Regions from separate parts of the Homo sapiens genome. Here all the other regions are linked to region 6. Evidence: fine-mapped expression QTL. A gene starts in region 6. Each other region holds a variant in brackets. All regions are shown on one strand. Distances are from middle to middle.

What was found.
Region 1: its variant is fine-mapped to the expression of NAAA in whole blood (INTERVAL, PIP above 0.99).
Region 2: its variant is fine-mapped to the expression of NAAA in whole blood (TOPMed, PIP above 0.99). The same link has a PIP of 0.9 or more in T cells, blood mononuclear cells and monocytes.
Region 3: its variant is fine-mapped to the expression of NAAA in whole blood (TOPMed, PIP above 0.99).
Region 4: its variant is fine-mapped to the expression of NAAA in whole blood (INTERVAL, PIP above 0.99).
Region 5: its variant is fine-mapped to the expression of NAAA in minor salivary gland (GTEx, PIP 0.99).
Region 7: its variant is fine-mapped to the expression of NAAA in sun-exposed skin (GTEx, PIP above 0.99).

The regions. Positions count from the first base shown.
Region 1 is chr4:75,907,103-75,911,169 of GRCh38, forward strand. It overlaps a transcript of NAAA not described here. Among named protein-coding and RNA genes, the nearest start is that of PPEF2, 6.7 kb to the left of the region's middle. RefSeq lists enhancers at 1,570-2,492, 2,493-3,414. The variant G/A (reference allele first, on the strand shown) is at 1,709.
Region 2 is chr4:75,918,446-75,922,512 of GRCh38, forward strand. NAAA (N-acylethanolamine acid amidase) reads right to left here. Exons shown (of 11, transcript NM_014435.4): 6 at 2,506-2,678; 7 at 2,293-2,355; 8 at 1,464-1,530; 9 at 316-344. Among named protein-coding and RNA genes, the nearest start is that of PPEF2, 18 kb to the left of the region's middle. The variant C/T (reference allele first, on the strand shown) is at 2,505.
Region 3 is chr4:75,979,917-75,983,983 of GRCh38, forward strand. It overlaps SDAD1 (SDA1 domain containing 1), which reads right to left. Exons shown (of 22, transcript NM_018115.4): 2 at 2,017-2,121; 3 at 1,456-1,554. SDAD1-AS1 (SDAD1 antisense RNA 1) reads left to right here and starts at 874. Exons shown (of 3, transcript NR_125906.1): 1 at 874-1,049. The variant C/T (reference allele first, on the strand shown) is at 2,425.
Region 4 is chr4:75,889,222-75,893,288 of GRCh38, forward strand. PPEF2 (protein phosphatase with EF-hand domain 2) reads right to left here. Exons shown (of 17, transcript NM_006239.3): 3 at 2,630-2,757; 4 at 2,427-2,484; 5 at 736-911. Among named protein-coding and RNA genes, the nearest start is that of PPEF2, 11 kb to the right of the region's middle. The variant A/G (reference allele first, on the strand shown) is at 1,860.
Region 5 is chr4:75,320,784-75,324,850 of GRCh38, forward strand. No RefSeq gene overlaps it. Among named protein-coding and RNA genes, the nearest start is that of LINC02483, 31 kb to the right of the region's middle. The variant G/A (reference allele first, on the strand shown) is at 2,161.
Region 6 is chr4:75,938,501-75,942,567 of GRCh38, forward strand. It overlaps NAAA (N-acylethanolamine acid amidase), which reads right to left and starts at 2,513. Exons shown (of 11, transcript NM_014435.4): 1 at 2,244-2,513; 2 at 1,501-1,665. The coding sequence starts at 2,449. RefSeq lists silencers at 1,796-1,865, 2,266-2,735.
Region 7 is chr4:75,999,454-76,003,520 of GRCh38, forward strand. CXCL9 (C-X-C motif chemokine ligand 9) reads right to left here. Exons shown (of 4, transcript NM_002416.3): 4 at 1,822-4,067. The region is part of intron 2 of SDAD1-AS1 (SDAD1 antisense RNA 1); the gene reads left to right. Among named protein-coding and RNA genes, the nearest start is that of CXCL9, 6.0 kb to the right of the region's middle. The variant A/G (reference allele first, on the strand shown) is at 2,354.

The DNA.
Region 1 (4,067 bases), 31 kb before region 6:
CTCTTTGAAATAAGAATTATTTTGAGCTAGGCGGGGTGCAGTGGCTCATGCCTGTAATCCCAGCACTTTGGGAGGCAGAGGTGGGCGGATCACGAGGTCTGGAGATAGAGACCATCCTGGCTAAGATGGTGGAACCCTGTCTCTACCAAAAATAAAAAAAATTAGCCGGGTGTGGTGGTGGGCGCCTGTAGTCCCAGCTACTCGGGAGGCTGAGGCAGAAGAATGGCGTGAACCCGGGAGGCAGAGCTTGCAGTGAACCGAGATCGCGCCACTGCACTCCAGCCTGGGCAACAGAGCGAGACTCTGTCTCTTAAAAAAAAAAAAATTATTTTGAGCTAAAGGCAATTAAAAAGCAGCAAACAGGCTGGGCATGGCGGCTCACGCCTGTAATCCCAGCACTTTGGGAGGCCGAGGTGGGTGGATCACCTGACATCAGGAGTTCAAAACTAGCCTGGCCAATATGGTAAGGCCCCGTCTCTACTAAATATACAAAAATTAGCCGGGCATGGTGGCGGGAACCTGTAATCCCAGCTACTTGGGAGGCTGAGGCAGGAGAATCGCTTGAACCCAGGAGGTGGAGGTTGCAGTGAGCAGAGATCATGCCATTGCACTCCAGCCTGGGCAACAAGAGCGAGACTCTGTCTCAAAAAAAGAAAAAAAAAAGCAGCAAACAGTATGCAGTGGCTCATGCCTATAATACCAGTGATTTGGGAGGCCAAGGCAGGTGGATTTCTTGAGCTCAGGAGTTTGAGAACATCCTGGCCAACATGGCAAAACCCGGTCTCTACTAAAAATTCAAAAAAAAAAAAAAATTAGCCAGGCCTGGTGGTACACGCCTATAATCCCAGCTACTCAGGAGGCTGAGGCACAAGACTTGCTTAAACCCAGGAGGCAGAGTCTGTGGTGAGTGGAGATCATGCCACTGCCCTCCAGCCTGGGCAACAGAGCGAGACTCTACTGCACTCCAGCCTGGACAACAGAGCAAGACTCTGTAGTCCCAGCTACTTGGGAGGCTGAGGTGGTAGGATTGCTTGAGTGCAGGAGTTTGAGGTTGCAGTGAGCTATGATTACGCCACTGCACTCCAGCCTGAGCAACAGAGTGAGACCTCGGCTTTAAAAAAATAAAAAAGAAGATAGTCTTGCTCCTCTTCTTCCTCTTTCAGGAAGGACAAAGGCTAATCCCCAGAGACAATTCTAGATCCTTATTGGCCTGGACATGGCACCAGAGAAATCTACATACCAAACTGTACAAACTAGGCTTTATCTACTGTTTAAGTCAAATAAAATATAGAGACAAATTTAACATTTTTTGGGGGAAGCAAGAATTGCAATTCCAGGTCGTCCACAGAGACAGGGTGATCTTCGGTACGTTCAAAGAACAAAGAGAAGGTTGGAAGTTTTATAAAAAGGAGAAATGTTACATATTGTTTTGAAAGAATGTTCATCAGCGCTAGTAAAGTTTTGGGAAGGGGGCAAACTCTGATTGGTGAGTGGTTGCAGTGGGTAAAATTAATCTTACAGTCTTAGCAGCTGTTTCAGTAGCTACTAGATAAAACTGGTTTCAGGTTTTAACGACGGTTTCAGCAGTCAAGCTTGCCAAGAATTGCATTCTTGGAGCAATGTTTTGTGCCCTGTGTGCTTTTTCTTCCTGTCCTCTAAATGCCCTTTTATAATTAAAAAAAAATTTTTAGAGACAAGATATCCTGTC[G/A]CCCAGGCTGGAGTGCAGTGGTGCAATCATAGCTTAACTTCAGCCTTGACTTCCTGGGCTCTAGCAATTGTCTCAAGTAGCTGGGACTACAAGTATGATCCACCACACTGGCTAATTTTTTTGTTTGTTTTTTGTAGAGACAAGAGTCTCCTTACATTGCCCAAGCTCCTAGTCTCAAGCAATCCTCCTGCCTCAGCCTCCCAAAGCGCTGAGCTACCGCACCTGGTCTTGACTTTTTTAGTTGGTCATGACAAGAATGACCCAATTCATATAATTAACTTTTTTTTTTTTTTTGAGACAGAGTCTCGATCTTGTTGCCCAGGCTGGAGTGCAATGGTGTGACCTCGGCTCACCTTCACCTCCACCTCCCAGGTTCAAGTGATTCTCCTGCCTTAGCCTCCCAAGTAGCTGGGATTACAGGTCCCCGCCACCACGCCCAGCTAATGTTTTTGTATTTTTAGAAGAGATGGGGTTTCACCATGTTAGCCAGGCTGGTATCAAACTCCTGACCTCAGGTGATCTGCCCGCTTCAGCCCCACAAAGTCCTGGGATTACAAGTGTGAGCCACCACACCCAGCCAATTAACTTTCATCTATCTTTTGTTACTATATGTTTTCCTTCCCACAATTTGCTGCCCCGAGAGACTCAAGGTCCTTTTCCTTTGTCTTGTCACTTCTCTAAAAATTTATAGTTCCTTTGCTAAGATGCCATATAAAAACAAGTTCAAAACAAACCTTTGAGTTACTCTTCTCTGGGTACTCCATATTGCGTATTCTGTACATATGTTAATCAACTTCTATTTGTTTTTTCAATTGTTAATCTTTTTTGTTGTTATGTTAATCTGTCTTTTGTCAGTCTAATTTACAAGGCCCCAGCTGAGAACGTAAGATGGGTAGAGGAATTGATTTTTCCTCCCCCACAGCGAGACCATCTTTTTTAATTTTTAGAGTCAAGTTCTCACTCTGTTGCTCAGGCTGGAGTGCCGTGGCATGATCATAGCTCACTGCAGCCTTAAACTCCTGGGCTCAGGTGATCCTCCCACCTCAGCCTCCCATGTAGCTGGGACTACAGGTGCACACCCCCATTCCCAGCAAAGTTTAAACAAATTTTTTTTTTTTTTTGAGACAGAGTCTCACTCTGTCACCCAGGCTGGAGTGCAGTGGCGTGATCTCAGCTCACTGCAACCTCCACCTTCCTGGTTCAAGCAATTCTCCTGCCTCAGCCTTCCAAGTAGCTGGGACTACAGGTGCGTGCCCAGCTAATTTTTGTATTTTTAGTAGAGACAGGGTTTCACCATATTGGCCAGGTTGGTCTCGAACTTCTGACCTTGTGATCCACCTGCCTCGGCCTCCCAAAGTGCTGGGATTATAGGCGTGAGCCACCACGCCCAGCCTTAAACAACATTTTTTTTAGAGACAAGGTCTTGCTATGTTGGCCAGGCTAGTCTCAAACTCCTGGGCTTAAGCACTCCTCAGCCTCCCGAGTAACTGGGATTACAGATGTGAGCAACTGTGCCTGTCTGTCTTCTTTTTAAAGGATGAATAATATTCCACTGTGTGTACATACCACATTTTCTTTATCCATTCATGCCTAGATGGACATTTAGATTGTTGATAAGAGTGTTACTTTCCTCCTGATATTGGAAGGACATCTTCCAAATGGAGATTTTATCTCTTGTTTTCAGGAAGAAAATGGGGAGGGTCAGAGTGAATTTCTTTTCCCTGCTGGTTTTGTAAGTGCCTTTAGCTCAAAATAGTCCTTATACCAAAGTGGCATATTTGGGGTAGTGTGTTCTGAGCTCCTTCAGCATACTTAAAGTTCAGGAGAAAAGACACAAGAGAATGTAGGTGAGCAATTCTGAGATAGCTGACTATTTTCCAAAATTGAACAAAAGACACAAACTTGAAATTTGGGGAGCACAACAAATCCCAAGCAGGCTTAAACAAAATTCAATATCTGGACACATTGTAGTTAAACCACGTGACACTGTTATCACTGTCACACACATCTGTGTGAAGAGACCACCAAATAGGCTTCATGTGAGCAATAAAGCTTTTTAATCACCTGGGTGCACGTGGGCTGAGTCCAAAAAAGGAGTCAGCAAAGGGTGGTAGGATTATCATTAGTTCTTATAGGTTTGGGATAGACGGTGGAGTTCGGAGCAATTTTTTGCAGGCAGGAAGTGGATCTTACAAAGTACATTCTCAAGGGCGGAGAGGATATTACAAAGTACCTTCTCAAGGGTGGGGAGGGTGTATCGTACAAAGTACATTCACAAGGGCGGGGGAATATCACAAAGTACATTATTGCAAGGGTGGGGAGGGTGTCTTGTCACAAAGTCAATTGATCAGTTAGGGTG
Region 2 (4,067 bases), 20 kb before region 6:
CTCTGGCTCAAGAAAAAAAAAAATTCCCAGAGCCTCCTTCAGGGTCACTCTATTCTTTTTACCTTTGGATTTCTTCATGGACTTCTCACCTGATTTATATTTGTTTATCACCACCACCCCCACCCCACCCATATTAGTCCCATGAGAGCAGAGACTTTGTTTTGCTCGCAGCTGTACCCACAGGAGTGCCCCCACAGGAGTGCCCCCACAGCCTGGTTACAGGAGCCCTCAGATCCTTGCTGAGCCAAACAGTACGTGAGTGAGTTCACTGTTCTGGAGTGATGTGTGAACAGACATGTTTAACAAGCCACTTACTTGTTATAAACTGGAACCACCGACAAAATCTGCATAGGAAAAAGTCATTTTATAGAGAAGATTACATGGTAGAAGAAATACACATAGAATATCTATGGAGGGCCGGGTGCAGTGGCTCAGGCCTGTAATCCCAGCACTTTGGGAAGCCGACGTGGGAGGATTACTCAAGCCCAGGAGTTCAAGACCAGCCTGGGCAACATAGAGAGACCCTGTCTTTACTAAAAAAGAAAAAAAAAGAATGTCTGTAGAAAGAACATAACCACTCTTTAGTGTACCTTGAGGTGATATAGACTTTTTTTTTGAGACAGTCTTGCTGTGTCACCTGGGCTAGAATGCAGTGGCATGATCTTGGTTCATTGCAACCTCCGCCTCCCAGGGTCAACCGATTCTCCTGCCTCGGCATCCCAAGTAGTTGGGATTATAGGCACACACCACCAAGCCTGGCTAATTTATATATTTTTAGTAGAGACGGGGTTTCACCATGTTGGCCAGGCTGGTCTCGAAGTCCTGACCTCAAGTGATCCTCCTGCCTTGACCTCCCAAAGTGCTGGGATTATAGGTGTGAGCCACCACATCCGGCCTGACTTTTTAATTCTTTCTCTTTTTTTCTTTTAAACAATGAACATATATTACAACTATGACTTTTTCTTTTTAATATAAAGAAAAACTTTGGTGAAGATGGACATTTTAACTTATATAAAAGCAAGTTGAGAAAATGTCATATAATTTTTTTTTTTTTTGAGACGGAGTCTCGCTCTGTCAGGCTGGAGTGCAGTGGCGCAATCTCGGCTCACTGCAAGCTCCGCCTTCCGGGTACACGCCATTCTCCTGCCTCAGCCTCTGGAGTAGCTTGGACTACAGGCACCCGCCACTACACCTGGCTAATTTTTTGTATTTTTAGTAGAGACAGGGTTTCACTGTGTTAGCCAGGATTGTCTCAATCTCCTGACCTCGTGATCTGCCTGCCTAGGCCTCCCAAAGTGCTGGGATTACAGGTGTGAGCCACCACTTTTAATACATGATTTCAACCAAATAAAACTTTTACCCTAACGTTTTCATCTACCAGAAGATTTCACGGAGTTTTTCATATTCACTATTAACAAAACACCAAACATCCTAGGTATGCAGGACACTGTGACACAAGTTACCTGGAAAAGTGCCTCCAGGCTGAGGTTTGCTTGTCCTGTAGCATTAAGGGCCTTGATGGCAGATGTTCTGTAAGGACAAAGGTCGAAGGTCACTTGGCATTTCAACAAGCACTGAAGCCCATCAGCTGTCATTTTTGGGAGGCAGAATGCAAGCTCCAGTCTCATTATCTCCCTTTCTCCAAAACAGATTCTGGCCCCAAGCCTGTTTCCTGCTGAGGCCCAGCCCACCACAGTGGAATTCATCCAGCAGCTGGGACGGTTGGCACCATCTGCTCCAGAAAGCTGGGATGATGAAAATGTGTGGCTGCAGAACTGAACAGTGGCCAAACTTGTGGGGTAGTAAAGCCAAGGCAACGTATATAGCTACCTGCACTTTGGAACTGTGCTGACTTATAATTATAGAATGTTTACAACTTGAAGGGACAATAAAAACCCTTGACTGGTTTATTTATTGTTTAAATAAGGGAAATAATTTCCTTCTAAAAATATCTTGCCTAGAAGACCATGAACCTGGCCCTTTGCTTTCATTTTACAGACTGGTAAACAGAGGCCCGAGAGCCACCCAGTGAGTCACTAGCAGAGCTGGTGGTGGGCTCTAGGGCTCCTGACCCTGACAGCCTCCCAACACCCGCCCAGCTGCTGAGAGGCTCTGCCCACTGCTCTCCTCCACACAACACTCCCTTCCCAGCCAAGGCACTGGCGAAGGGGCTCAGGTACATTTTCTGGGAGAGGATAGCACCCATAGGTCTTGCCAGTTCCTGTGACAGAATGGGCATATTCTCCTGACCATAAGAAAACACTGCAAACCAGAAAGCACGTAGCAGCCTACCTCCGGTCATCTTCCTTGGGTGCTGGCTTCCAGTGGTCGTAATTTGTCTCAACTCGGAACCACCTACAACAGAGCACATCATCTTGTCTTATCCAAGGCAATTTACGACATAGCAGAGGAGACATATGAACAAATTTAAAATACCCCTCATTTCACCGATTAAAAAAAATGATTATCTGATACAAAATGACCAGAGCTTTCAATTCTACTTA[C/T]GCTCCATTCAAAGGATCTAGAGGCCAAATGTCTGCTGGGCCATCTCTGTTCCTCGTGATGACCACCCCCTCCCGGGGGGACGTGCCACCAACAATGTAATAAACATCAGCAATAAGGGGAGTCTTGGCCAACTTGCCAACAGCTGCTTCGAAGTTTTCCGACTCACTCAGGGTCTGAACGAAAGGATGAACTTGCGTGAGCAACCCCACCTGCAGTTGGGTCCACACCAGATGATGCAAAAATGATCCAAAGCACATTCTCCTGATATGTTATGTCATGACTATCACCTTGATCTGCTCTGACCTTATCCTCTTGTTATCAGGGCTCCTAAGATGGAAGAAATTTCAGCTTCAAAGCGGAGCCAGGAGCAGCAGGAAATTCTGACAGGAGGAGAGAACTGTTGACAAGCCCTAGGCCTGGCTCAGCAAACACCGGCTGTGTGCTCTCCAGGCAGATCGCCCTCACAAAGGACTTTTTGTGCTTCTTCATTCATTTATTATTTAAACAGGGTTTTCTTGAATATCTACACTGTGCCAGGCACTGTGCTGGTGGGGGATAGAGCAGTGAATGAGTCGCCTGGTCCTATTCTCCCCAAGCCTCTGAGGAAGACAGAAAAGTCAACAACCAATGGTGACACAGTGTAATGAGAGTTCACATAGGAGAATAAGATGCTATGGACGTCACAGTAGGGGTCCCATCCTCACCAAGGGCAGTGGAGGAGGTACTGCTGGGAAGCATCGCATGAATTGAAGCTAAAGAGACAAACACAAGTGAGTGGTGAAAGTGGTGGTTGCAGGGTGAGGAGTGGCAGTGGGGAGGAGGGTTCTAGTTCGATGGACTAGACTGGCAAAGGCTTGGGGATGAAAGAGCATGCGCTACATTAGCGCCCTGAGCTTAACTGGTGTTCAGACACCCCGAGGGCGCATGATGACTTCCAAAGGCCTGTGGCAAGGATACTTAAGGGGATCACTCCCCAAATCTTCAGATTCCATATGGGCTCCTTCCTAGAGCTGATCTGCTCAAGAATATCCTTCGGTGGAGGGCCTGCTCTTCCTGTCTCCACCTTCACAACCACTCTGCTGCCATGTTTTAAAGGAAGTACACTGTATGCTCACCCATCCTGGATATTGCCAGGGCACATTGTCAAGGGTGGAGGTGGTGATAGGGTCAAACAAAAGAACAATTCAAGGTATTGGTGTCTGCAAAGGCTCCGTCATTCAGCACCATAAACCTTAACAGCAATAACCATAAGGCAAGAAAACTCTACAAAACCCATGGCAGGGCTTTGTAGAGTTTTCCTGCCTTATACTTAGCTATGCAGGGAGGCTGAGGTGGGAGAATTGCTTGAACCCAGGAGATGAAGGTTGCAGTGAGCCGAGATCATGCCACTGCACTCCAGCCTGGGTGACAGAGTGAGACCCTGTCTCAAAAAAAAAAAAAAAAAGAAATGATCTGTCCTAACTTGTTTGACTGTAGGTCATATGATCCCCTTTCCAGAGAGGATCCTGCCCTGTACCTGGAAGAAGGGAATGTATGGTCAGAGAGGCCAAGAAGAATCTAGA
Region 3 (4,067 bases), 41 kb after region 6:
CCTCAGCCTCAAACTCCTGACCTCAAGCAATCCTCCTGCCTCAGCCTCCCAAGAAGCCGGGACTACAGGTGCACCTGGCATATATATTAATTTAATAATGCCCACAGACCAGTTTGGTGGGGTACTGCCAGGAAAATAAAACTTAAAGAAATCCTAATTACTTGGAAAGCCATTAAGTCTCTATACTCAAAATATCAAATCTCTATGACCTACAAGGACTTCAAGAGTAACATGACATAGGTAAAAGCCTTTAGACTAGGGGTTCAAGTTTGGAGTCCCTTGGGCTATACTGCCAGGTCCCATGTACCAGCTGAGTATCAATCAGTTGACAACCCAGGGCCTGAAACCTTGGCTTGTCTGAGACAGTATTCTTTTTCTTTTTGGCCTAATCAAATTACTAAAATCCTAAAGTAGTATAAAAATGATAGAAATACAAAAAACCTGAGAAAGTCTAAAAGAAAACAAATATTCATCTAAAGACTTGGCATTTCTACAAGTTGTGCTATAGGATATTAGTACGTTTTGTGATCATATTTGCGTACTTATCTGCTGTAAAGAGGTTTGAAAAGCAGATGTATTAAATTTGGAAATGTCTTAGTCCCTAGAAGCAGAGACTGATTTATTACAAGTGATTTGTTGGGGGTATGATCTCAGAAAGGAAGTGAAGGAAGGAGGATAGTGCAGAGACACGCAAAGCAAAGCAAGGATGTGCCCTTGACTGGAGACTAGCTTTAGTCCCAACACAGGAAAACACTGGAGCACATCCTGCATTGGAGTCAGAGCCACCCTGAGGTAATGGGCTGGGCTTTTGTACCACATGATAATGGGCTGTGGGCTACTAGGGTAGGAGGACACCTCCCAGGCACTAGGACTCCGATTTAGCTGAGGACAATGTTGCAGAGAAAGGGCAGCTGAGGGCCACCAGCAGCTGACATTCACAACAAGTGGGGCAAACAGGTACACCGGCCTCGTGAAGGGAATGTCAGCCAGGACTCAACCCCAACCACTAAAAGGACAATGATGAAATGCTCAAACTGACTGTCTAATGGGTAAGTTTACTAATTTAAGGCATTATAAAAATGACAAGTTGTGATTAGGATTCTACATGCATATGAGATTTGAATGACTAGAAGAAATCATCTCAAAAGGTTAAAGAGCATCCTGTAGGGTTAGTGTGCTGGAAGAATAGAAAGATCACAGTGTAGCTGAAAACAATATGATATCAGAAACACAGGCTGGAAGCAGATCATGCAGGCACTTTTGAGCCAGGTTATTAAGTTTCCGTTTTACTCTAAGTATAAATGAGAAGCCATAGAAGGATTTTTAGGAAAGGATAATACATTATAATTTACGTTTTCTGAAGATAATTAGCTTAGAGGCTGTTCTCATTTAAATATATATGAACGCAGCACACATGAACACAGCACAATTTATTCATCCAACTACTGGTCCTACCATTCGCAGATCTGGATCCAATACGGTATGATTGCAGGAGAGAAGATCTTTCACCTCTTGAGGAAAATTACTTAGGTACTCTGGGTAGCAGTGACTAATCTGTAACAAAGCAAAGGCTCTTCTGAAGTTGCTCTCTTTCTCTCCTATAATTCAGATGCATACATTTAGGATGTTCTGCAAAACGAGAGTAAAAGGCTATGTTTCATAGAAGTAGATGGTTCCAAACAACCTTCTTTTCCTTCTACATGTTAATTTCTCCAACATTTATCATGGTTTCTCTAGTCTTAGTAATATTTATGGCATGATTTAGTACCTGCTTTTATGATGAATTTGAAGAAAAAAAATAGTCTTAAAGTTTTGTCCTGGTTAGTTATGCAAAAAGATCTAGTGACATTCTCTAACTCATGATAGGGAGAAAATAAAATTTGCAAAAAGGGAAAGTTAGAAAAATATTTTAATTAAGTTCCCATTCCAGAGTGGAATAAGGTTGAGTATTAGTGAAAAAACATTCAGCAAACTGTGTGTTAATACTGGTCTTTATTTAAGCAATTATATTCTTACCTGTGCCATAAACATCACCAGCTCTGCTAGTTCTTTGCTGGGTTTATTTGGTTGCAATTTGAAAATCTCCACATTGGATTTGTAGTGATTATACTGCTGTAGAAACTGCAGAAAAATAAAATTTAAGTTTGTCACATTGTATTACATGACTTTCTCAGTACAGACATTCAGTAGAGAAATTCTTAGTAGAAACTGTTGACGATCACATGGAGAAAAAGATAATGCAAAAGTATATAAAAACACTCCTTTTGCCTTATCTGCATTCTTCAAAGTGCGCTTTTTAAAGACCTGAGCACATCACAGATAATCTAAAGAACTTTTCCTTGGAATTATCACTACAAGTTTAGGCAGCATGGTGTAAGAACAGAGAAGCATGAATCCCAAATTCAGATTGTAGCCCTGTTCTGC[C/T]AGTTACTATCTAAATGATCCCGACTGCTGGGTGTAGTGGCTCACACTTGTAATCCCAGCACTTTGGGAGGCCAAAGTGGGAGGATCACTTGAGCCCAGGAGTTCGAGACCAAACTGGGTAACACAGGGAGACCTTGTCTCTACAAAAAATACAAAAATTAGCAGGGTGTGGTGGCGTGCACCTGTAATTCCAGCTACTCAACAGGCTGAAATGGGATGATCACTTGAGCCCAGGGAGGTTGAGACTGCAGTGAGCTATGATCATGCCACTGCACTCCAGCCTAGGCAACACGGAGGCCCTGTCTCACAAAATAAAAATAAAAATAAATGACCCCTACTACCATATCCATGTATGCAGAGCACTCAAATCAGCAGAAAAATAACAGGGCAGAAATATAAATTATATCTCAAGTACATGAAGCTCTCCAGTCAAAATCCCACCCCCCCACTGCCACCCCTTTTTAAAAATTATACTTTTAAGTTCTGGTATACATGTGCAGAATGTGCAGGTTTGTTACACAGGTATACATGTGCCATGGTGGTTTGCTGCACCCATCAACCTGTCATCCACATTAGGTATTTCTCCTAATGCTATCCCTCCCCTAGCCCCCCACCCCAACAGGCCCCAATGTGTGATGTTCCCCTTCCTGTATCCATGTGTCCTCACTGTTCAACTCCCACTTATGAGTGAGAACATGCGGTGTTTGGTTTTCTGTCCTTGTGATAGTTTTCTGAAAATGATGGTTTCCAGCTTCATCCATGTCCCTGCAAGGACATGAACTCATCCTTTTTTATGGCTGCATAGTATTCCATGGTATATATGTGCCATATTTTCTTTATCTAGTCTATCATTGATGGGCATTTGGGTTGGTTCAAAGTCTTTGCTATTGTGAATAGTGCTGCAATAAACATATGTGTACATGTGTATTTACAGTAGAATGATTTATAATCCTTTGGGTATATACCCAGTAATGGGATGGCTGGGTCAAATGGTATTTCTGGTTCTAGATCCTTGAGGAATTGCCACACTGTCTTCCACAATGGTTAAACTAATTTACACTCCCACCAACAGTGTAAAAGAGTTCCTATTTCTCCACATCCTCTCCAGCATCTGCTGTTTCCTGACTTTTTAATGATTGCCATTCTAACTGGCGTGAGATGGTATCTCATTGTAGTTTTGATTTGCATTTCTCTAATGACCAGTGCTGATGAGCTTTTTTTCACTGTTTGTTGGCCGCATAAATGTCTTCTTTTGAGAAATGTCTGTTCATATCCTTTGCCCACTTTTTGATGGGGTTTTTTTTTTCTTGTAAATTTGTTTAAGTTCCTTGTAGATTCTGGCTATTAGCCCTTTGTCAGATGGATAGATTGCAAAAATTTTCTCCCATTCTGTAGGTTGCTTATTCACTCTGATAATAGTTTCTTTTGCTGTGCAGAAGCTCTTTAGTTTAATTAGATCCCATTTGTCAATTTTGGCTTTTGTTGCCATTGCTTTTGGTGTTTTAGTCATTAAGTCTTGCCCGGGCCTATGTCCTGAATGGTATTGCCTAGGTTTTCTTCTAGGGTTTTTATGGTTTTAGGACTCTTGTTTAAGTCTTTAATCCATCTTGATTTAATTTTTGTACAAGGTGTAAGGAAGGGGT
Region 4 (4,067 bases), 49 kb before region 6:
AACAAAAAAACAAGTCAGATTATGTCATTCCTATGTCTGCTGTCTCCCTGTCTCTTTTGGAAGAATAAAAGTCCACCCCCTCACCTCCATTACTCTTCCCCTGGCTCCCTCTTCTCCAGCCACAGTGGCCTCCCGAGGTTCGTGAACAGTCCAGGCAAGTTTCTGCTTCAGGGCTTTTCCATGTGTTCCTCCCTCTACCTGGAACGCTCTTTCTCCGGCGCATTCCTCACCACCTTAGATCTTTGCTCAGAAATCACCTTCCCAGACAACTCTATAAAATTGCTATTTCTTCCATCCATAACTTAGTTTATTCTTTTCCATAGCTCTCATCGCCTTCTAATATACTGCATAATTGTCTTATTTATTGTTATTTATTGTTCATTGTCTGCCTCCCCGATGGAATGCCAGCCCCATAAGGGCAGAGATTTTATCTGTTTTGTTCACTGCTGTATCCTCAGTGCCCAGAGCAATGTGGGGCACACAGCAGTGCTCAGTAGTTATGTGTGGGATGAATGAACAATGAGAGATTATGTGATTAGGAAGAAAAGCTGTCAATCATCAGAACTGGCTGATTGACTGCAAGGTCCTGGCTAAGCACAGCAGGGGTAGAATCTCTCTAGTGGACACATGACATGAACACCCTAAATCTGGGGCCATTCTTTCTGTGCTGGGTTTCGTCTCCCTTCACACATTTCATGGAGTTGGTAGTGACCCAGGTTCCCCAGGTGAGCTTACTTGTTTCAGTCTGAATGCTTCTACCAGGGCAGTTGCATGGTCAGGCAGGAGTGGGAAGGAGAGGCGTGGCCCCGTGTAACTGTCGGGTACCTCTATGGATTCATAGTCACTGCATTTCTTCATCTCGGAGTCCTGGGCGAATCTGTCCTCAGTGAATATGCGGGTCAGGAAGTCCCCTAGTCCAGATAGAAAAGGTGGATCAGCTTATGATCATCTGATCATGCAGTCTGTGGGCACTATAGAATAGTCCTTGGCTGGGCACGGTGGCTCTCTAATCCCAGAAATTTGCGGGGCCAAGGAGGGAGGATTGCTTGAGCCCAGGAGTTTGAGAACAGCCTAGGCAACATAGGGAAACCTTGCCTCTACAAAAAAAATTTAAAAATTTAGCCAGCCATGGTGTCACACACCTGTAGTTCCAGCTACTCAAGAGGCTGAGATGGGAGGATCACATAAGCCTGGGATGCAGAGGTTTCAATGAGCAGAGATGATACTACTGCACTCCAGCCTGAACGATAGAGTGAGACCCTGTCTCAAAAAAAAAAAAAAAAAGTCCTTCCCTGGACTATTGAAGCAGGACATGGTTAATCTGGCTTCAGCTTCAGCTCCAGCACAGAAGAGGAAAAAGGAAGGAGAAAGTGACAACAGTCTAGGATGGGCAGGAGGAAAAAGTCATGCTTTCTACTTTTATTCTAAAAGATCAAGATTTGTCAGACTTAGAGAGTACAGAAATTTAGGGACCTGGATTTGCAAGCAGAAGGAAAGGGGAAAGCCAGTGTGGAAAAATCACAGGTATTTATGTTGCATTTAGTGAGCGCAACAGGTGCATCAGACCTGGCAGTGCCTTCCAGCAGCTTCCAGCTGCCAGCATTGGCATCTCCAGACTGAGGACTTATTTCCTGGATCCGGATGGCAGGCCAGAAATGCTATGGAATTAACAACCTCCTGGCTTGGCTCAGTGGTTCACGCTTGTAATGCCAGCACTTTGGGAGGCCGAGGCAGGTGGATCGCTTGAGGCCAGGAGTTCAAGACCAGCCTGGTTAACATGGTGAAAGCCCATCTCTACTAAACATATAAAAAATCAGCCAGGTGTGTTGGTGCACACCTGTAATCCCAGCTACTTGGGT[A/G]TCTGAGGTTCAATCACTTGAACCCGGGAGGTAGAGGTTGCAGTGAGCCAAGATCATGCCACTGCACTCCAGCCTGGGTCACAGAACGAGACTCTGTCTCAAAAAAAAAAAAGAAAAGAAAAGAAAAGAAAAAGCCTCCTTCCTATACTTCTCTCCCACCTCCCCAGCCGCTTTCAACCAATGACTCCTGGAGTTGACACAGAAAAACTCCAGTTCCCTTTGCCTGCAGGGGGTATAATTCTGAGGCTTGCGTTTTGCACTGTTTCCTAGGCACACTGAGTTGCTGGACTGGCTGCGATTCCTTTCCTGAATCCCTTCCCCACTCCCTCCCACCCCCAGGGTTTCTTGAACTTAATAAATGAATTCCTTGCGTCCAAACTCTTGTCTCCAGGTGTGTGTTCAGGAGAACCTGGCATAAAACCCCAGTCTGCCATTTACTCCTCAGCCCCTTGCTTATTCCCTGGCTGTCACCAGATTCACGGTTTCACTCCCTGTGCATCCCCCACCTCACCGTGTAATCTATGGCCTTGCGACAGGAGGACATGACATGTGGCAGTTCATACTCACTGTCGTTGTGGCTGCTGGGGATGAAGTGATCCATGAGATAGCTGAAGAAGTCATGGAGCTGCAGAAGAACCCAAGGAGACGTGGCTTTAGAGGTGAGCGAAAAGAGAACCCACAAGTAGTCCAGTTGGCCTCACTTTAGGAGCACCCGAGCCCTGCTGCCCAAGGGAGAGCAGGAGGCGGCTCCGTCCCACATCTCATTGTACCTTGACTTGGTCTTGCTGCCCAGCATATTCTATAGACTGGAAGATGCTCCAGGTGCAACGCCGCCTCATCTCCAGGCGGGCCACGTAGCGCCGGTACCATCTCTGGATCAGGGCTGCTGCCTTGAAGGCTATGACACCGATGGAGAAGCAAGCCTGTGAGCTCGGACTCCCTGGGCCAGGGGTTTGGGGGTAGGGAGAGGAAGCTGCTCAGCCCTCTCCCACTGTATATGTGAGGACAAGATGGAGCAGAAGCACTACCCATTGACGCCCATAGGAAGTATTTCCCTTTCTGCTGGCAATAGTGCTTTTCCCCATTTCCTGCCCCTCCCCTTCATTCCTGCCTGATGGTTATACTCATATCACTGTAGGTTGATTAGAATTCCCATGTATTGATGAAAACATTTCTGTATAGGGATGAAAAGGTTGGACTGCCAGGATTCCGAGAAGGAGATGTAAACTCATGAGATTGCAAGGATGCAGCATCCCTGACAGGTTATAATGCGGGGGTGGGGTGGACATTTTGATATTGTGACAATAGACTGGATGTCAGGACACCTGGGATCTAGACCTAGAACTGCCCTGACAAGCTCTGTGGTTTCAGACAAGTCATCTGGGGCCTCAATGTCCTCATCTGGAAAAGGGGCGGGGCCAGATGAAGACTAGGAAAAGCAAACAATAAACGAATACTCAAATGAATGCATCATACGATGTCAGGGGGTAGCAACTGTGTCCCAGCTCCCATGCTTGCCATCCCCAGTTCCATGATATCCCTACAGGCTTTAAGCACCCCCGTCATAAGATAGACAGCACTGACCATGCAGTCCCCCACATGGCCACTGGGCCTCTCATTTTTGCCAGGACCTGTGCTAGGTGACCAGGTAGGGCAGGTTAGGGTGTGGAGTTTCATTCTTTATATAAGGTTTAGGACCTGTGTGGTCAAGTATTGTTGCCAGAGAAGGGAACAGCTGTCCACATAACTAGATTCTTTTTAAGCTCCAAGGCTTAGATACACTGCTGGTGATGAATGGACTATTTGTGGATAAAGCTGGATTAGAAATCCTGCAGGCTGGATTAGAAATCCTGCAGGCTGACTCAGGTCAACCTCATAAAGAGTAGACAGATTGATTTAATATGTTTCGTTTGCATTAGACAGATAATAGAATTCTTGCTGATTTCCCTAAGAGGAAAGATGATGGTGACATGGGAAAAGAGAAGCTGGGAGGAACTTAAACAAAGATAAATTTGATTTCCTATGAAAAAAATTCATACTACTAGTATTTCTCAAAGGCACTCACTAAATAGTAAGCGATGAGGTTGAACCCCACTGACTGACTTCTGTAAAACCATGTTCAGAATAGTGAATGAGGCTGGGCGTGGTGGCTCACACCTATAATCCTAACACTTTGGGAGGCTGAGGCTGGTGGATCACCTGAGGTGA
Region 5 (4,067 bases), 620 kb before region 6:
TGTTACATGAAAAGCATATGAAGAAATAAAAGATTGGAAGAAAATCCAACAAAATGTTAATAACAAATTGTAGGATTGTGAGGGATTTTTATATACTTTATTGTATTTAAATTATATTTACCAAAAACATGTACTAATTTTTTTAGATATAAACCTATTATATAGTTCTACGAACCTGCCTTTTTAAGGGGGAGCCTAGACAGGACTTCCAAATTCTCCATTTGGAATCTACTTTTCCTTCTATTTTGTCTTCTTTAGTTTTCATAATAAATAGGAGACAAATCAGAGAGGAATGGCCTCAGCTTTCTGCTGTGTCTCTACCTCTCTCCCTTGCCTACAGTGCAAAGAATAAGATGTCAGACAACCAGGTCAAGTGCTGCCTTTACATTATTTTCTCTTCTCTTTTCTGCCCCAAGCCTGTTTTTGCTGTCTCCCTTGCCTGCATATGTAACCCCTTCCTGTCTAAACCATCATCCTTCCCAGCCCTCTGCAACTCTTAACTCTCCTGGTCCCTGTGGGCTACCTCCAACTCCTACCCTCTCTCCATTTCACTCACCAGCCAACATTTTTGAGAATGGTCTAGATACTTCCCTTCACATTCTCACATCCAATTCACTCTTCAACATCATTAAATTTCCTTCCACCCACCACACTCCACTGAAACTGCTCCTGCAAATATCACCAGGAATTTGCATATTGTCACATAAAACGGACACTTGGCATCCTTATTTTTAAAAGCATCTTTGCTAACTTTTGCCCATGCGAATCCTTTTGCCTGGAATGCTCTTCTTCAGCCCGTTTGCCTTACTAACTCCTCTTCCCTGTTTTGCTACAGTAACTTCTCTCTTTTGGGTCTCAGCTTACGTGATGACAGGCCAAAAAAGTCTTCCATAAATCTTCTTTCTGCACCTCAATAAAGATAAGCTCCCCTTGGGGATTCTCATACATGGCTGGTGGAAACAAGGAGTTTCTTATAAGCGTATATTTAATATATGACTCACCAATCTCACTCTTAGGTATTCATCCAAGAGAAATGACAGCATATGCCACACAAAGACCAGGACACAAATGTTTATAGCAGCTTTATTTACAATTCCTCAGAACCTGAAACAACCCAAATGGCCTCCAACTGACAAATGAGAAAACTAACTGTGGTACATGCATTTAATGAAGTACTATTCAGCAACAAAAAGGAGCAAATTACTGATACATGTAACAACATGGATCAATCTCAAAAGCATTATGCTGAATAAAAGTGGCTTGATGCGAAGGCTAAATGCTCTCTGATTCCTTTTATAGGACATTCTTGGAAAGGCAAAATTATAGGGATATCAGAATGTGTGGGAAAAAGATAAAAGGAAATAAAAAATAAACAAGAAAACCAAAAAATTAAAAATTTGGCCAGGCGCAGTGGCTCACGCCTCTAATCCCAGCACTTTGGGAGGCTGAGGCTGGTGGATCTCTTGTCAGGAGTTTGAGACCAGCCTGGCCATCATGGTGAAACCCCATCTTTACTAAAAATACAAAAATGAGCCAGGCGTGGTGGCCCATGCCTGTTATCCCAGCTACTTGGGAGAAGGAGGCAGGAGAATCACTCGAACCCGGAGGGTGGAAGTTGCTGTGAGCCAAGATCATTCCACTGCACTCCAGCCTGGGCAAAAGAGCATGACTCTGCCTCAAAAAAAAAAAAAGAAAGAAAGAAAGAAAATAAAATTTTTTAAAGAAAAAATATTATAGGAGTAGAAATCAGATCAGGGGTTCCCAGGGGCTGAGTGTGAAGGAAAGTAATTGACTACAGAAAGGCTCAGGAAAACATTTTAGGATAATGGAAATATTCTATATTTTGATGGTGGTTATATAACTTATATATATTTGTCAAAATTTATAAAATTGTACCCCTAAAAGGGATAAATCTTACTATATGTAAATTCTACTTCAATAAACCTGGCTTTGAAAAAGAAACAGACAAAAACTCGGGTCAGGCTCATCTCTCCAACAAAACTTCTACGACTTTATCCAACTCCAGACTGGTTTGGGAATCTCCTTAGTTTCCATAGCAGGTGGTGCCTATGTGTTTCTTTCTGCATGTATCATATTACATTGAAATTATCTACTTTAAACAAAATTTTTAATATTTTTTTAATGTCTAGCTCTCCTACT[G/A]GATGGTGAGCTCATTAAAGTAAGAAACCATATTGTATTTGTCTTAATATCTACACACTTCACTCTCCCATCCTCCACCTTCCACTTAACCCACCATTGTCAGCATATTGATCAACCAGTGATCAAAGACCTTTCTCCTCTGATCTGCTTAGGAGGAGATCCAATGAAATCTCCTAAGTTCAGAACCTTTCTTCATGAGTTGGCCTCATCAAAATTCTCTGTTTTTATTACCTTCCAAGCCAATATGACTAAACAATTCTTAACAAGGTATTAACAACTAATGGTAAGTTACATTTATATAAAGTACATAAAATTTTAGCATAGGTTTTCAATATTTTATTTTAAAGATAGGATCCCAATGGTAGAAATATTTGAGGTGAACTAACAAACCTATAAAGGAGATATTTTTAGTGGAAGCAAATCAGTGTCTCTTGGATCTATGTAAGAATTGCTAACAATTACATGGGAACACACTAATTTTTTAAAGTAGAGAGTGATGATGTGTTTGAAAGTTTTTTGATTCCTAATAACTTATGTTCACAAAGCCATTATTCAGCCGGGAGGAGTAGAAGAAGTTGGGAAGGGTGGGCATGACACAGTAGCAACTTTATGTTCTATGCCTCCTCTGGTATCATTAGGACCCCTTGTGCACTTCAATTATAGACCAAAACCTACCCTTTATCTTTGCTACTTTCTAATGAGCATCCTTCATATAAAAGGAGTGGGGAAATAGTTCATCGTGAAAGAATGACATGCTGCTATTATTTTCATTCAGCCCATTAAGAAGACCTCCTTCCACATATACGTATGCTTCTTAAAAACCTACCAAATTATTCCAGGTTGTATGATGTATTATAGTGGTTCCCATCTGGTAGTCAGGCCTTTCACGAGTAGCCCAGGAAGGAAGCAGGGGTTTCACAACCATTACTGAGAATTCACTTGTCTTCCATTTTACTCTCCTCCTGTAAGGGTGATGTGCTGGATCCAACCACACCCTGTCTGCCATAGATTGTTCACCCCTTAGCCTGCTAGTTGTATATCACACTCATGGCAGCCTGGCAGAAATGAGACAGGATGGCATTCTGCAAAGGAGGCTGCTTGCCTAGCTTGCCCGATCAGAGCATCAAAATTTTGGGTGTGACAGTGAAGTAGGGAATAACCTATCTAGGTGTTTTCCTGAGAAAAGGGCCAACAGTTTCTATTCAATTCTCAAAGAAATCCATATAATTTAAAAGTGATGCTTTTAGAACTTTATAAGATGATATTAATAAAGTAAAACTAATATGAATAAGAAAAATTATACATATTAGAAGGCATCCTATTATTGTAACTACAGAGTAGTCAATTAGCACCTTTTGGGATCTACTCGGGGAAGAGACCTTCCTCGAATCAATAGGGTGTGTGCCTCCCATCCCTGCCTAATAATTTTGATCAATTAGTGATCAAAGACCTTTCTCCTCTGGTCTACTTAGCAAGAGATCCAGTGAAATCTCCTGGTAAGTTCAGAACCATCTTTCCTTACAGTTTACAAAACACTTTGACCCATCTCATTTGATTTTCATTCCCATTATGAGACATGGGAATTTTTATTCCTATTTCACACATAAAGAATTGAGGCTGAAAGAAGAAAAGAAGTTGGACCCCACAGCTACTTTCTACTTCCCTTCCATGGAAATTAACTCATTGCCTCTGTAATTCGACCTTAAGATGACCTTGTCTTTTCCTTCTAAAGCTTCTCTTTATGTTCTTTCAGCCAACACTTGTACAGATTCCTCAGCCTAGATTTGTTTGTAGCTTGCTTTCTTGCTTTCTGATCAGAAATCTAAGTGGCAGAGACCATGCCAGGGTCTCTGTACCTGGCAGAGACCATGCCAGGGTCATTCCAGCCTCTACCCCAGCAGTTTTGG
Region 6 (4,067 bases):
GGCCTGTGTCTTTTCTGTGCCTGAAAGCATTTCCTGAAGAGGAAGGCAGTCCCAGTGCTTTTTAGCTTACTCTGCCTAGGTGTTCTGGGAAAATGCCTGGGCCAGTAAAGTTTCATTATTCCAAGATCTTTTCTACCCCCATCATCTTTAGGCAGCAAGAAGCTCTAAGTATGTACAAGAGGTTACGAGATGAAGCTAGTCTGCTGGCAAAACAATAAGTATTGAAGGAAGAAACCAAGTCAAAACCTCTCTTTATTCCAGGGCCTATTACTGAGCCCATAAACCTTTAGTGGTCCCCTGCACTTTGCCTGGGATCAACCACACACTCCATGTTGCTTTCACTTCTGGGTGCACTTTTTTTCTTTGATATGGAATCTCGCTTTGTCGCCCAGGCTGCAGAGTGCAATGGTGCCATCTTGGCTCACTGCAACCTCTGCCTCCTGGGTTCAAGTGATTCTCCTGCCTCGGCCTCCCAAGTAGCTGGGATTCACAGGTGCCCGCCACCAGGCCCTGGTAATTTTTTTGTATTATTAGTAGAGACGGGGTTTCACCATGTTGGCCAGGCTGGTCTTGAACTCCTGACCTCAGGTGATTCACCCGCCTCGGCCTCCCAAAGTGCTGGGATTACAGGCGTGAGCCACCGCGCCCAGCCTGGATGCACATTTTATCATGCCCACTTCCCGGTCCAAACACTGGCTGGCCCTATTAGAGCAGTGTTCCCTGTCGCCCCAGCCCTGGTGGACACAGACACTTCAGCCACGACACACATGAAAGGATAAATGCAGGGCGACAAATAAGGGCAGAGATGAGCCACTGCCAGTATAGAGCTGGAAGGCCACTGAGTTAACTAAAGGGTCCAGATGAGAGGAGGCTTAGTTTCAAAAACTTCCTGGAAAAGTACGTTTTGAGCAGAATTTTTTTTTTTTTTTTTTTGAGACAGAGTCTCGCACTGTCGCCAGGGCTGGTGTGCAGTGGCGCGATCGCGGCTCGCTGCAACCTCCGCCTCCCGGGTTCAAGTGATTCTCCTGCCTCAACCTCCTAAGTAGCTGGGATTACAGGCGCCCACCACCACGCCTGGCTAATTTTTTGTGTTTTTCGTAGAGACGGGGTTTCACTATGTTGGCCAGGCTGATCTCGAACTCCTAACCTCGTGATCTGCCCACCTTGGCCTCCCAAAGTGCTGGGATTACAGGTGTGAGCCAACGCGCCCGGCCTTTGAGCAGAATTTTAAAAGTACGCTACCTGGATTGGGGAAGAGAAAACCCGGGGCTACACGTAGAGGGAAAGTTTAGTGTTGAATCGGAGAATCTGCTTTCCCTCTCGAAGCCTACGATGTGCAGCTCAGATTTACCCAGAGAGGCAAAGAGGAAGCGCTGGAGGTTTCTAGGCAAGCAGGCACCGCCCTGTTTTTATCACACGGAAAATATGTCTCCTCCCGCTAGTCTGTGTCGGGGGCCCCCGCAAGCCCCGCGTTACTCCGCGCGGGCTTGGGGCACTCACACGGAGGACTCGTAGGCCAGGTTGACCAGAAGGCAGTCCGCCAGGCTGAGGTTCATGAAGTCACACATGCCGCGGATCTCGCCGGTGAAGGGCTGGGGCAGGAAGCGCTCCAGCTCCAGGACCACTTTTCCGATTAACACGTGCACCCACTTGGGGACTCTGTCCCTAGAAACAAAAAGCACAAGGGCGTCTGACCCGCTCAGAGGTCGGCGGCGTGCGACTGCGTGTGCACTGCGAGCGGGGCTACATCCTTAGGGCGTGAGGTCTCAGGGCCACTGCTCCCCAGTCAGTGGACCGCCCAGGCGCGGCGTCACTCAATCTGCAGCCTCCCGGGAGTGGGGGGAAGGGGGCGGGGGGAAGGCGGCGGGTAAGAAAACTCCGAATGGGGAGGGCGAGTGAGGCTGGTCCCAAAGGGGCAAGCTTGGAAGGCCCGCGAGGCCCGCAAGGAAGGCGCGGGTTGCCCCTCCTTGGTAGCTATGCAGCCCGGGCGACAACTCGCGCGCCACGCTGACCCGGAATGGCTCAAGGACTGGCGTGCCACGGGTGACACCGAACTTGAAAGCCGAACCTGCCGCGCTGGATTCTCCCCAACCCGGACGCTGCTCAGGGCGGCAGCCAAAACCAGTTCTCCAAGGGTGGCGGGGAGTAAAGCGTCCCCGTTTAAAGCACTCTGAGCAGCGCGCGTTTGACTCCGACCCGCAGGGCCGGTGTCCCCGCAGACCCCGTCCAGGGCCCCAGCTCACCCGATGACTTGCGCCATCGCGGCGCGCACCAAGTCCAAGTCGTAGTGCCGCAGCACGGGCAGCCAGCGCAGCTCGGGGACCGAGTCCAGGCTCACGTTGAAGCGCGGCGCTGCTGGGGGCGAGGCGGCTGACAGCCCGGCCCCGGCCAGCAGCAGCAGCAGCAGGGACGGAAGCCCCGGGCGCGCCTCCCGGTCCGCGGTCCGCATGGCTCGGGCTCCAGCGGCCGCAACTTGGAGACCTGCAGCCGCTGTCGGAGCCCGGGTAAGCCGTGGAGGAGGAGGAGCTGGGGCTGGGCTGCGATCGCTGGAGGTGGGGCCCGCGCACGACCCGCCCGCCCCTGTCACCGGCAAGCCGGAGCGGCGACACCTCCCGTCCCCGCCGCGCATCCACTAGCCCGCCCCGACTCTCCATCGGGCCTGGAGGTCCCTGACCGCGGGGCCGCTAAGGGTTGGGGCTGCCGGCAGCCGGCTTCTCACCAACTGCCGGTTCCAGCGCACCTGCTTGGGCCGAAGGAGTGTAGGCTGCGGCCGGGAGGGGCTGTAAGATTTTCAGTAGCGAAAAGGTGTCAGGAAAGACTTTTCAGTTAAACTTTGTTTGCTTGTTTGTTTGTTTGTTTGAGATGTAGTCTCACTCTATTGCCCAGGCTGGAGTGCGGCGGCGAGATATCCGCTCACTGCCAACTCCGCCTCCTGGGTTCAAGCGATTCTCCTGCCTCAGCCTCTCAAGTAGCTGGGATTACAGGCGTCCACCACCATACCTGGCTAATTTTTGTATTTTTGGTAGGGACAGGGTTTCACCATGTTGGCCAGACTAGTCTCGAATTCCTGACCTAAGGTGATCCACCGGCCTCAGCCTCCCAAAGTGCTGGGATTACAGGCGTGAGCCACCGCGCCTGGCTGGTAAAACATTTTTTTAAAGCTCAAAATTTAGTGAACATTTATCTGCTAAATATTTTTCGCGGACATTATCTCATTTAATCATCAAAACAAGCCAACAGGTAGGTTCCACTAATCCTCGCTTTACTGATGAGGAGTGTGAGGCTTGGAGAGGTGAAGCCATGTACCCGAGGTTACTCTGCTGGTGTGTCTCTGCACTGGCCTCCAAGTAAGGAGGTCTGAATCCACAATCCACCTTCACACCTAAGTTTCTTCACCTTTGAGTTCCCAATGTCTGGGAGACAAACTTAGGAAAATCTTAGTAAGGCTGGGACATTCTTAACGGTTAGCACAGTTGTCTGTGGGTAAAACAGGGTACATGTGTACATGAATAGTAGAAACTAAATGAAAGGGCCGGGCATGGTGGCTTAGGCTTGTAATCCCAGCAGTTTGGGGGGCTGAGGCGGGTGGATCACCTGAGGTCAGAAGTTTGAGACCAGCCTGGCCAACATGGTGAAACCCTGTCTCTACTAAAAATACAAAAATTAGCCGGGCGTGGTGGTGTAATCCCAGCTACTTGGGAGGCTGAACAGGAGAACCTCTTGAACCTGGGAGGCAGAGGTTGCAGTGAGCCGAGATTGTGCCAATGCACTCTAGCCTGAGTGACAAGAGCAAAACTTTGTCTCAAAAAAAAAAAAAAAAAAAAAAAAAAAAAAAAAAAAAAAAAAAAAAACTAAATGCATAGTAGAAACTAAACACATTTTTTTTTTATTTTTTACCAATTTTAGGATGAAGAAATACAACTTTTATAATCAATCACTTGTTTTTAAGGATAACACTTAAAGGAATTACAAAATTTCTTGCCAGACATGGTGGTTCACGCCTGTCATCCCAGCACGTTGGCTGGCTGATCATCTGAGGTCACTTGGTTTAATGAATAGAATCAGAA
Region 7 (4,067 bases), 61 kb after region 6:
CTGGGACAGTTGGACAAATAGAGCTTGTGTGAAAAATCCAAGAAGTTAAGCCCGTTCAGCGCCAAATTGGGGCTGCTAGGGTCTATGGGAGCTGTTGCTTCTGTGTAACTACCGCCTCTGTGGGTCCACTGCCAAATATCTGGGTGGGGGGCCTGGGACCATCACTGATCATGAGGCCAGCAGTCCTGAGCATAAGCTGAACATGGAGGAAAAGAGCAAGGACAAGCTGGGATCCACTGGCTACCAGTGTGTCTGTCAATATGTCTAATCAAGATTAAGGGTCACTCCTTCACTTTTGATTTCCAAATCTCACATGAGTTCTTCTTTGGCTAACTATAACCTGGAACCACACAGGGAAGGAGATTCTGGGAAATGTAGTTGTAAGACTAACCAAGTTGATATAGTACAACCCAGAACCACAGGGAACAAAAACCCCAGAAGGCAATGAATTCAGTGTGCTCAAGAGACATACAGAAAAAAGGTGATGCTGAGGCTCAACAAAGGAGGGGAGGGTAGAGGGAGCATGATTAGATAAGCAGGCAGATCCCAGCTTATGTTAGGCCAGCTCATGGTATGTTTTGACTTAATGCTAAGCTGCAGGATTTTAAGCAAGGTGGCAGCATTCTGTAAGTTATTTTTTAAAAAGATTATTCTAGTTGTCATGGAAGTTAGGGAAGCAAGAGAAATGTTGAGAAGAAGAGCCAACAGGGAAAACAGCAGGCTACTGAGGTAGCTCAGGAAAGAGACAATGATGGCCTGGACTAGGATTATAAAATACAGATATTGAGAACTGGTCAGGAAGCCTTTTAGTCTCATTTCTCCAACATGTTTTTTCAGTGCTGGAAACATTTCTCTCTCTATGAGATGTAGGATCCATCTGCTGCAAGGAAGATGCAGCAGAGGTAAGTGGTTAGGGAGGATCTGGGACAAACATTGAGGACTTTCTCTGCACCAAGACCTATGCTGAACCTGCTCCTCACAACAATCTGGAATGAGGAAAATGATGCACTGGGAGGTTAAATATTATACTTTAACCAGGGTCACACAGTTAATAAGTAGTGGGCCCCTGATTCTAACCAGGATATCTCAGAATCCAGGATCTTAGCTCCTTCCAGAGTCCTGTTGCCTCTCAGGTGAAGGCCCTTGTGAGAATTCATGTCTACCATTAGCAGCTGTTATCTGCCCGAATATTACACCTGTCTGGCCTCTAAAGTGTACATCAAGTGTACAGGCTGATGCTCTTCGTTCCACTCTCAACCTTCTTAGAGACTCCACGCTGCGTAATGCCTCCAGCCCAAGTTTCCTGGACCCTTAAATAATTCATTCAGTGTTTAGGTCTCCATCATAACTACTTGAGGCTTTACAATATTTAAACATATACAATTTTAGGGATAGAAAAGAAGACGTGTTGGCTTCCTGGGGACACACCTCATTGGAATAGTGTTACTCTTGAGGATTAGGAAATACATTGAATTCTACATAATGCTTTTTTTTTTTTTTTTTTGACAGAGTCTCACTCTGTCACCCAGGCTGGAGTGCAGTGGCATGATCTTGCCTCACTGCAACCTCCACCTCCCGAGTTCAAGTGATTCTCCTGCCTCAGCCTCCCAAGTAACTGGGACTATAGGCGCATGCCACCATGCCCAGCTAATTTTTGTAATTTTAATAGAGATGGGCTCTCACCATATTGGCCAGGCTGGTCTCAAATCCCTGACCTCAAGTGATCCGCCCACTTCGGCCTCCCAAAGTGCTGGGATTATAGGCGTGAGCCACTGCGCCCAGCCCCACATAACTCTTTTAAATCAGTGTTGTTGTAAGGCAGTGTTGTCATATTTTCCATAGGTTTTTTTTCCTGTTCCCGATCGACCCTTTAAAGAGCTTTCATGTGTTATCTCAACTAGTGTTACACTTTATTTGAGAGAAAGCTAAAAAGTAAATAAGGACATATAAGATTTACTATTAAACATTCAACAGTTGAAGGGTACATTCAAGAGAAAAAAAATCAAGATCTGTTTTCTGATTAATGGTCTATTTATTGATACCATTCTATTTTAACAAAGAAAATATTTCAAATTACAAGGTATACAAGTCAATACTGTTTTGAAGTGAAAAATTATTTGCTTTGAGAGTGTATGCATGTATGTATATATATGATAAATGATTATAACGTGTGTGTCAGTGACAATATGTAGTCTTTGGTTGTTAGTTATATACTGTCTACCTGTGAGATGCAAGGTAAGTGGGTCACAGACTCTCAAATTTATGAAACACTTAGATTTTTCAGGGAAGTTACATGAAGGAACTAGGGAGTTTCATGATTAGATAAGACGTTCGGGTGGGATCTCCACCGGAC[A/G]GCACTCTAAATCATCAGCAGTGTGAGCAGTGATTCAATTTGGGAAAGTGAGTATAGGTTTAAATTCTGGCCACAGACAACCTCTCCTACACAATTCACTGAACCTCCCCTGGAAGGAGGTTTCCACATCCTGCAGAGGCTAACTGGGCACCAATCATGCTTCCACTAACCGACTTGGCTGCTTCCTCTAGCGCTTAGTACTTCACCGTTCCCTTTCTTCATGGGAGATGGTGTGGTAATTGATAATCACAATACAAACTCTGAAACAAGTAAACGGACAATAAAACTCATATTTGCCTAAAATGAGTTTCGATAAGGATCTCGGTGGCTATCTTGTTAGATCTTAGAAAGCTGAGGCTTATTGAGAAAGCCCTTTTCCTTCGGGAAAAGGAATTTTTGTATGGTTGGGAAAAGGTTGGTCACTGGCTGATCTATAAAGTCCTTTTCATTGTAAGATTATATGATTTTCGGTAAACTGTATATTTTTTAAAAACAGTCCAGAATATCCGCAAGTGTTTTACCACGTGCTTCTTATTGTTGGAGAAGCTGAGCAAACATCCTGTCATAAAAAGACAAGGATGTTGCATCATCCCTGGTCCCTGTAGTGAGTGTCCTGAAGATAATAAGTAAGAGGTTACCAGAGGCTAGCCAACATGGAGTAGCCAGGAAAGAGCCAGCACCTGCTCTGAGACAATGGTCTGGTTGCCATCCTGCCCATAACAACATCAATTAAAAAATTATTAAAACCTAGTTCCACAGTATTATTAGGCACTGTGGAAGAAACAGGGAAATATACTGTGGCTCTTGCCCTCAAGGAGCTGACAATCTGGTTGGAGAGATAGGATAAACACCCAAGAATTAGTTAACCATTGAGTGTTCACCCATGTGGTACTGAACCAAGTGAAACAGGAGTTTTAAGATAATTTGTGTGTCCAAAAAGGTTTATTTAAGAGGCAGGACTTGAACTAAGCTGGACTGAGTGAGGATGAATTGGGAGAAGAAAGCACTTCTGTGGGGTGTTGGGGACAAGATGAGAAAGGAGTTGACTCAGATAAATCAGAGCATATGACAGGTGCACTGGAGAGAAGAAAGGCACTGCATTGTGGTAGGATGGAGAAGAGCTGACTTGAATGAAGCAAAGGGGAACAAAAAGAAATAAAGTGGTCAGCCTGAGCGGGCAAGATGGAATCACATGGCTTCCAAAGCCAGAAAGGAGGCTCTGAAAGCCACACACTGGTGATCTCCAGTGGTGATACCCAATAACAATCAGCATGAATCTCTCAGACACATTGTGTGTGAGGCCTGTAGGCTGATTCAAATACAGAGGTTGATGGCCACAGCAGCTTGGTGAGGTCCAGCTCAATTTCAAACTGCTTGGCTCACCAGCATGCTAACAGGCTTAGGACTTGCTGACATGTGCCTCAGATACTCTCTGGAGGCTGCAGTACGTGGAAGCCTAGGGCTGCTCTTCCAGGCAGCTGTTGTGAGTGGGATGTGGTTGGGTGAACATCTGTGTAGACATGGGTATTGCTAAAATCATGGCCTTAAGCATGATGAAATTCAACTGGTGGGTGGTAGAAGAACAAAGACAATCATAGCCTTTAACAATTCTTAACGTTTGGATTCTTAAAATCAACTTTCTAACTTTAGTTACAATTTCAGAGTAATGTTTTAAATTTTCTAGTCAAATTAATAAGCCTTTGTATTATATGCC